Linked DNA regions of Homo sapiens: all the other regions are linked to region 3. The links come from fine-mapping of genetic effects on gene expression. A gene starts in region 3. Each other region holds a variant in brackets. All regions are shown on one strand. Distances are between the middles of the regions.

Evidence for each region. PIP is the estimated chance that this variant, and not a neighbour inherited with it, causes the effect.
Region 1: its variant is fine-mapped to the expression of AFAP1L2 in whole blood (TOPMed, PIP above 0.99). The same link has a PIP of 0.9 or more in blood mononuclear cells.
Region 2: its variant is fine-mapped to the expression of AFAP1L2 in pancreas (GTEx, PIP above 0.99).

What each region holds. Positions count from the first base shown.
Region 1 is chr10:114,303,218-114,305,969 of GRCh38, forward strand. It overlaps AFAP1L2 (actin filament associated protein 1 like 2), which reads right to left. Exons shown (of 19, transcript NM_001001936.3): 11 at 1,502-1,713. Among named protein-coding and RNA genes, the nearest start is that of VWA2, 65 kb to the left of the region's middle. RefSeq lists a silencer at 1,752-1,801. The variant G/A (reference allele first, on the strand shown) is at 1,552.
Region 2 is chr10:114,429,269-114,431,972 of GRCh38, forward strand. ABLIM1 (actin binding LIM protein 1) reads right to left here. Exons shown (of 23, transcript NM_002313.7): 23 at 1,844-2,704. Among named protein-coding and RNA genes, the nearest start is that of AFAP1L2, 26 kb to the left of the region's middle. The variant T/C (reference allele first, on the strand shown) is at 1,714.
Region 3 is chr10:114,403,299-114,406,050 of GRCh38, forward strand. AFAP1L2 (actin filament associated protein 1 like 2) reads right to left here and starts at 1,204. Exons shown (of 19, transcript NM_001001936.3): 1 at 1,142-1,204. The coding sequence starts at 1,157. RefSeq lists silencers at 359-408, 1,206-1,285 and an enhancer at 1,239-1,739.

The DNA of each region.
Region 1 (2,752 bases), 100 kb before region 3:
ACCCATAGCTCCATCACGTTTGCTGCTACATTCTCTTCATCAAAGAGGCCGTGATGAGCAGAATTTGACATTTAGTTGGTTTCCTTTTCCCAGTTTTTTTTTATTTTAAAGACAGAATCTTGTTCTGTCGCCCAGGCTGGAGTGCAGCGGTGGGATCTTGGCTCACTGTAGCCTCTGCCTCCCGGCTTCAAGCAATTCTCCTGTGTCAGCCTCCCAAGTAGCTGGGACTACAGGCGCCCACCACCACACCCAGCTAATTTTTGTATTTTAGTAGAGACAGGGTTTCACCATGTTGGCCAGGCTGGTTTCAAACTCCTGACCTCGGGTGATCCACCTGCCTCAGCCTCCCAAAGTGCTGGGGTTACAGGCGTGGGCCATCATGCCCGGCCCCCACTTAGTTTCAACTGGATTCTAAATACAGCTTTTCATGGGCCTCCCCTAGTCCAGGCTGCGTCTCTGCCCTGGACAGCTGCGACAGCTTCCTAGCAGGTCCCTTCTTGCCCCCTCCGATCCACTCCCACCCCAGTAGCTGGAGGAAGCATCTCAAAACCCCGATCTGAGCTTGCCGCCCTCCCCTGAAAGCCATCAGGGCTCCGTTGCTCCTAGGATCAAGCCCTGTCCCTCCCGCTCCAGCCTGTCACCCAGACCCCAGTACAAGTCTATAGCACCCTCCCCACTTCTTTCCAGCCATTGTAGCCCAGCGATTGGCTGGGTAATTTGCTGAATAACATCACACTCCCAAACTAGGATGTAAGTGCCACAAGGACGGAGTCCATATTGCTCTTGTCCACCATATTCCTGTGCTGAGAAGATGTCTGTTGATGGGGAACCTCTGAATGGATGAATATAAGCTACAAGCTGGACCCTGGGAAGCAATTGCGATGTGGGTCTTTCAGCCACCAGAGGGCAGGATTGGAGCAAAGTTTGGATGAGGACCTCCACATCAAAGACTAAGTGAACGGACATTCACGGGCAAGTGTGTGCTTCCATGCGTGGAAGGGACTCGGTCTCCGCCTGCCGCAGCTTGCAAAGCGTTATGTCACTTCTTATTTTTGTAAACGTAACATCACATCAAAGGGAGGATGGGGAGCGAGAGGAATGTAATTGTATCACAAAGCGAATTTTTTCCCCCAGATAAGCTCTAACAGTGTGGTTTTTACGTACTGGGCCTAGAGGCTCTCCCAGCTGGTGATACCCAAACAAAACAACACCCACTTTGAATCCCCAGCAGCTTTTCCAGTAGCTCAGAGAACTAAAAATACTCCTTCTGCCCTAAGTGCAGGAAGTAGCGCATGGTTCCACTCTTATAACGCAACTACTCTGAGGTCAGAAAAGGAATGGAAATTTTTAAAAATGCAAACAATCTCAGGCAAACGAAGTAAAAATAACACGCGGGGACATTGATTCTCCCTTAGTAGCATTACAGTCCTGGAGACTGGCAGCAAACAGCCACCACCGCCACACCCTGGCTGGCCCTGCTCCCCCTGCAGGCCGGCGGTACCTCAAGCTTGGCCAGCTCCTCGCCCTTGTGGAGGATGCGGAAGGAGTAGA[G/A]GTGGTCGGGGCTGGGGTCTGGGACCACCTCGCAGCCCACCAGGCTGAGGGGTTGCTGGGCCACCTTGCTCCGGTTCCGGTCCTGGTAGAAGTGCAGGTGATTGTCCCTGACAGAGCACCAGCGAGACTTCCACTGGCTGTTCACCAGCACGTTCAGGTAACCTGCAGGAGGAAGTGCAGATGCAGGAGGGGACAGGGCTGCAGGAGGGGACGCAGATGCAGGAGGGGGCGGGGCTTCGGGAGGGCACACAGATGCAGGAGGGGGCGGGGCTGCGGGAGGGGAAGCGGATGCGGATGCAAGAGGGGACTGGGCTCCAGGAGGGGACGCAGATGCAGGAGGGGACCGGGCTGCAGGAGGGGACGCAGATGCAGGAGGGGACTGGGCTGCAGGAGGGGACTGGGCTGCAGGAGGGGACGCAGATGAAGGAGGGGGCGGGGCTGCGGGAGGGCATGCAGATAAAGGAGGGGGCGGGGCTGCGGGAGGAGACGTGGATGTGGGAGGGCACGCGGATGCAGGAGGGGATGCGGACGCAGGAGGGGACGGAGCTGCAGGAGGGGTCGCGGATGCAGGAGGGGACTGGGCTGCAGGAGGGAGCGGGGCTGCAGGAGAGAGCGGGGCTGCAGGAGGGGACGGCGCTGCAGAAGGAGATGCAGATGCAGGAGGGGACGCAGATGCAGGAGGGGACGCAGGTGCAGGAGGGGACGCAGATGCAGGAGGGGACGGGGCTGCAGGAGGAGATGCAGGAGGGGGTGCAGGTACAGGAGGGGTTGGGGCTGCAGGAGGGGACACAGATGCAGGAGGGGGCGCAGATGCAGGAGGCGACGGGGCTGCAGAAGGAGATGCAGATGCAGGAGGGGATGCAGATGCAGGAGGAGATGCAGATGCAGGAGGGGATGCAGGTGCAGGAGGGGACGGGGCTGCAGGAGGGAGCGGGGCTGGAGGGGACGGGGCTACAGGAGGAGATGCAGATGCAGGAGGGGGTGCACGTACAGGACTGGTCGGGGCTGCAGGAGGGGACGCAGATGCAGGAGGCGTCGGGGCTGCAGGAGGGGAGGCAGATCCAGGAGGGGACGCGGGTGCAGGAGGGGACGCGGGTGCAGGAGGGGGCGCAGGGGCAGGAGGGGACGCGGGTGCAGGAGGGGACACAGGTGCAGGAGGGGACGGGGCTGCAGGAGGAGATGCAGATGCAGGGGGGGTGCA
Region 2 (2,704 bases), 26 kb after region 3:
CATTCTGCAGATGAACAAATTGAGGCTGAAGAGAGGCTAAACGGGCTCCAAGACACACAGACAGTGAGTAACCCCCAAACTGTTCATAAATGCGCCTTGGTGGTAGTGTTGGGGCTCATGGCCACACTGAAGGGCGCTGGCCGGTCTCACACTAAGAACCCATTCTGTGCAGTGTGCCCTGGGAGATTCAGAATGTGGGACACAGTCCTTGCCCTAAGAAAGTCACAGGGAATGGGATGTGGAGGATAACAGCATGGGATCTGAAAAGGGCAGACCTGGAGAATTCTAGCTCTGCTGCTCACTGGCTGAGTGATTGGGCATGTTTGATTAGACTCTGAGCTTTGGTTTCCTACCTGTATAGTGGAGCTACAATTGTCTACTTTGAAAGGCTCTCACGAGCAATATAGTTATGCCAAGCTAGGGTGCCTGGCGCTCAGCACAGAGATCTCACTACAGTTCAACTGAAGAGCAGAAACCCACGCAGCTAGCAGTTCGAGGCAACACTTGCTAAGTACCGACCTTGAGGTTCAACTAGAGGCATGCAAAGAATTACATGCAGATTGGGCTGGGCCCATTAAGACAGGCTCATAGAGAGGGTGTGAACTTGGACTTGTCTTTAATTTGGAACAAATGGAGCCCATGGGAAATTCACATGGGTAACTCCAAAGAGCTGATGGGTAGCTGTTTTTAAAGAGTCAACATTGATCATTACTTCCTTTCCCTGGGGCCAGGTCCTCTCTGCTCCACCACCTCCTTGAAGAGTTGAGCATCGTAAAGAAGAAATACCTTTGATAAAGCTGCCTGGGAGGGAGCAAGCATGGTATGTCCTGGGAACTTGCAGTGGTTTGGCAAGATCTGAAGGCAGGGTACTGGGGGAGAGGCAGCTGAGCAGTGGGTGAGGCGAGATCCTTCCACTCCCAGCAAAGGCAGTGTGAGATTCGCTGACTAAAGTCTAGCAACTGAAGTGAGGCACGGGTCAACTTCCATTGGAGAGGTGGCCACCAGAGCCAAATCCCACAGAGAGTTCATAAGGACTGGAGATGACCCCTAGCTATGGTAATTATGGACCACAGCAGGGATGCTTTCCCACGGGTGGAGGCAGAGATGAGCAGAACACAGACCTTGAGCTGAGGTCTCCCGGCCTGTTTTCCATGGTGGTGAACTAAAGATGCCAACTGTCTTGAAAACAACCTGCATCCCGCTTCCAGGGGAGGGTCATGTGAATGCCAGTGTGACTGGGTCTTGGGTAGTCTCAGCAGACACAGAGCAGAAGGAAGGCTATCGTTGGAGTGGGCCATCTTGGACATAGATCCTTGTACTTTCTGGCAAGCCTAAAATCTTGGCAGTGATGATAACAAGGAAGTTAACATCTACAATTTCTTCATGTAAAGTTTGATCATGCAGGGGATGCCCAAAATTGGAAGGATGCTTTTCTCCTACTGCATTCTAGCTTCTTACTAAAAAGTGGCCCACACTCATAGTGGCTCAGAAGCTTCAAACCTCCTCAAATCCCCAGCTTTGTCGAAATGATGGGACTATCCCTGCTGTGTCACAAACCAAATCAAACACCTATGACACAGCACAGTGTAATGGCTCTACTAAACATTTCTTTCCTTTGGACAGCTTGGTCAATATGGTCTGGGTTATTGGACACACAGTCCTGGAATATCCTGCTGTTATTTGCTGCATTTTTCCACCTGCATGATAAAAATG[T/C]ATTCCCACAGCCTTGGGTTCATTCTGATTTTGTTTTGATTATTGGAAGTTGCGTTGGTGCTTTTTAAAATGAGATAGACCTTCAAAGGGAGCCAGGGAACGAGAAATGAAACACAGGTATGGAGGCATCTACGAATAAAGCACACAACTTTATTCACGAAGTTGTGAGTATGACAGTGATGCAGAGTATATGACAAAGGAGTGCAGTGAGTGCTGCTGGCAACAGGAGCGGGGAGCAGGTAGGGATCACAGGCACAGCAGCGCGGAGCCGGCAGGGCCACCTCCTCCTCTACACACAAGCATGTGGCACTTAGCGCGCCAACACACACCTGCTCAGTTTCACAGGGAACACGACACAGCTTTTCAAAAGGAATTCTTCTAAACATTTGCTTTCATATTTCCAAAAGGGGAGGGAGGGCAGGAAGAACCACACACCTTCCAACATTTGAAAAAATTCCATAAACCCAACTTAAAATCAAAGAACTCAGAGAGCTTCAATGCGGAGTCATCAGCAACTCGCAGGAACCACACACATGATTGGACAAGTCTGTACATAAAACCCCAAAAGAACATCAGTTTTGTGGACAATGGTTTCCTCTGCTGTAAAGAAACGTATGCATATATGATCAGTAAGCAGCTCACATCTTTCTGAATGTCAAGGTCTACAGGATTGTCTCTGTCCACCTTTGGTCAATGGGTTCAGGAAGTGACTCATGGGAACTGCACTCTTAGGAGAAACACTTTTGGGAATAATTTTATTGAATAACAACCACCACTCAATTACACTAAGCTTCAGAAATTGTTGGATTTGTTTAATTTTGCTGTGTACCTATACATTGTTTAGAAAGTTTCTTTTGGCTTAAACTGACCATTTCCCCCCTTCTTTTTGAGTTTTCCATGATTAAACTTGCCCAAATAAAAACATAACAATCCATATGCAAAGCATATCTGCCACCACCTCCCACTGCTTCCTGGGCCGCAAACAGAAAAA
Region 3 (2,752 bases):
ACCCAGATGAGAAAAAGCAATGGGAAAGTGAAAGACAAGACTACTTTAGGGAAGCCGGTCCCAACAGGTCCCTTTATGTCAGTTTCAGGGATCAGAGCCCTCCGGGAGTGAGATTCCTGGGAATCTGAGCGTTCTCTTTTTATTACTCTCTCCCAGGGGAAAACAAATATAGAAGCAGCATTTCCTCCCGCAGGTTTGGCGGAGACCGGTCCAGCAAAAGAGAAGGCAAGAGGCTTTTCCAAAGGGAAGGGGTCTGCAGGAGGATGGGGGAGGGGGGAGCGCCCGCAGGGTTCCTCTTAAGGGGCAACTCCCTGTACTCCCTTTTCAAAAGAACCGCAATCGAGACTTGTAGACCAGCTCCGAGGCTCCGAGTGTGGGTGCTAAGCTGGGCGTCCGGCGCACCCGGGACGGCCCGCCCACCGGGGTTTGGCGGAGATCCTGGCCCCCGCCAAACCCAAAGCTCGCCCAGCTGCGCACTGAGCTAAGCCCTCGGGTCCGGACGCCTCCAGGAGCTCCACCTGCCGGGCACTCCATTCGGCCCCCGACCCTCGCATCCCTCCTTTCTTGGTGTGGGGGAGCAAAGAAGGGCTTGGAGAGAAACGATGACCCGAACGGCAGGACGTTTGGGGAGGCCCCACCTAGCCCGGGGAGGGTCTGCGCGCCCACTCCACTGCCCAAGCGCTTTGCCGGGAGCAGGAAGCCCCTAGCCCGGCGGGCGCCCGGGAGAAAGGACTCAACAGCCCGACCCTTTGCCCCCAGCAGCTCAGCACGGTTCCCACCTTCTTCGGGGCTTCCTCGGCCCCAGGCATCTTTCCTGTGCGGCGGGACTGAGGGTGGAGTGGGGTGCCGGGCTCACCCTCTCTCCTGCAACAGGTGAGAAGCCCCGCCACGCCCCCCACTGACGACCCCCTCCTTCCGCGCCCGGGAGGATCAAAGGGCTCGGGCCGCAGCAGCCACCTAGGAGCCCACCCGCCCAGTCCGCGGCGCCGCTGTCGCCCCCTCTTAGGCCCAGGTCCGGGCTGGGTGGGGGCAGTGGGCTCTGCTTATCCCGAGTCCTGGCAAGACGAGTCCTAGCCCTGCCCTCCGCGTCGCTGGGCGAAAGGGAGTGGGTGTGCGCCGCGCGAGGAACCCGCGCCCTCACCTTTGTACCGCTCCATCGGGGCCACGGAGTGCGCTCCTCGCGGCTCGGCTTCTGCGCTGCTCTCCCGGCGCTCGGCTCAGCGCCCAGGCCGCCGCGCTGGCCCCTCCCCGTGAGGTCACGCTCGCGGCCGGACCTCCTGGCGGGGCCGCCGCGCCCAGGGTCCTCGGACCTGGCCCCCGCCAGGGCTCGCCCCCAGCGCCCCTGTCCCAGCGCCCCTGTCCCAGCGCCGGAGAACTCCGGCCCGCCGAGGCTGACAGTCGGCTCTTGAGTCGGTGCGCGCCCGCGGCCCCGCTCGCCGCCCCCGGCCGCCTTGGCACTCCCTTCACGTCTTGACTCCGGGGGCGTCGAGAGGGAACGAGACTGGGACGTTCCCAAACTCTGGGGGAGGCTCCGGGAGGCCGGGCTTGGGTGGGCCTCCAAGATTGTTCCCACACCCCTGCCCGCTGCAAACCCAATGCCTGGAGGAGGAGACCGAGGTCCAAGCTAGGAGGTTGAGACTGGCTTAGAGCTCCTCGCGCTTGGCTCCCGAGCCAGCGCGCTTTTGCCCTAGGCCTTCCTGGAGGGGCGAGGAGGGCAGCGGGGCGGGCAACCAAACCTGCTCCGGGTTCTTTGGGGATTGCTCCCACTCTCTTGGAACCTCTCTGGGCAGCCGCTGCCAATCGCGCACACTTCAGGGTGTGTGAAAACATCTGCTTGCTGCTTTCTACCTGAATTTCCAGGGCCAACGCCACAAGTCAGGGAGTGCCGTTTCCGGGGCGCCCAGTAAACCTGACCGCCTTGGAGGGGTGGCGCCGGTTCCATAAGGAAGCTCGGCCATGGCTCTGAATCTCCACCCTGCACTGCCTCCATCCAGAAGTGCCACACTTCCATCCTTTGCCTTTTGCCACCGGTCCTTCCAGGCCCTTAATGCGACCTAGTCTTCTCCGTGCTCCCCCCAGAGATCTATGTGTTCTTTTAAACTTTTTCAGTTTTCACTTTAAAATCTCAGTCACGGTTTGTGCTGGGTGCCTGGTTGGTTACCTAAGTTCCCCAGCTTCCTTGAAGGAACAATTAAGGAAGATTTGGCAGTGGTGGTTTTCTAAAAGACTTCTTAATTCTTCCTTGGAATCGCAGATTTAGTTGTGATGTTTGGAGACCTCCCCCAACCCCTCCCAACAGCATGTAGAAATATTTTTCTTAGTTATACTAGCACCTAATGTGGATGGAGCCCTCCCCACAAGCCAGGCACGGCGCTAAGGGCTGTACATCACTGCCTTTAGTTTCCCCGATATCCCTGTGACATGGGTATTATTATGATCTCTTTCATAGAGGTGAAGAAGCTACGGCTGGGCGCGGTGGCTCACGCCTGTAATCTCAGCACTTTGGGAGGCTGAGGCGGGCGGATCACGAAGTCAGGAGTTCGAGACGAGCCTGGCCAACATGGTGAAACTCCATCTCTACTAAAAAAAAAAAAAAATAGCTGGGCTTGGTGGCAGGGGCCTGTAAACTCAGCTACTTGGGAGGCTGAGGCAGGAGAATCGTTTGAACTTGGGAGATGGAGGTTGCAGTGAGCTGAGATTGCGCACTGCACTCCAGCCTGGGTGACAGTGTGAGACTACGTCTCAAAAAAAA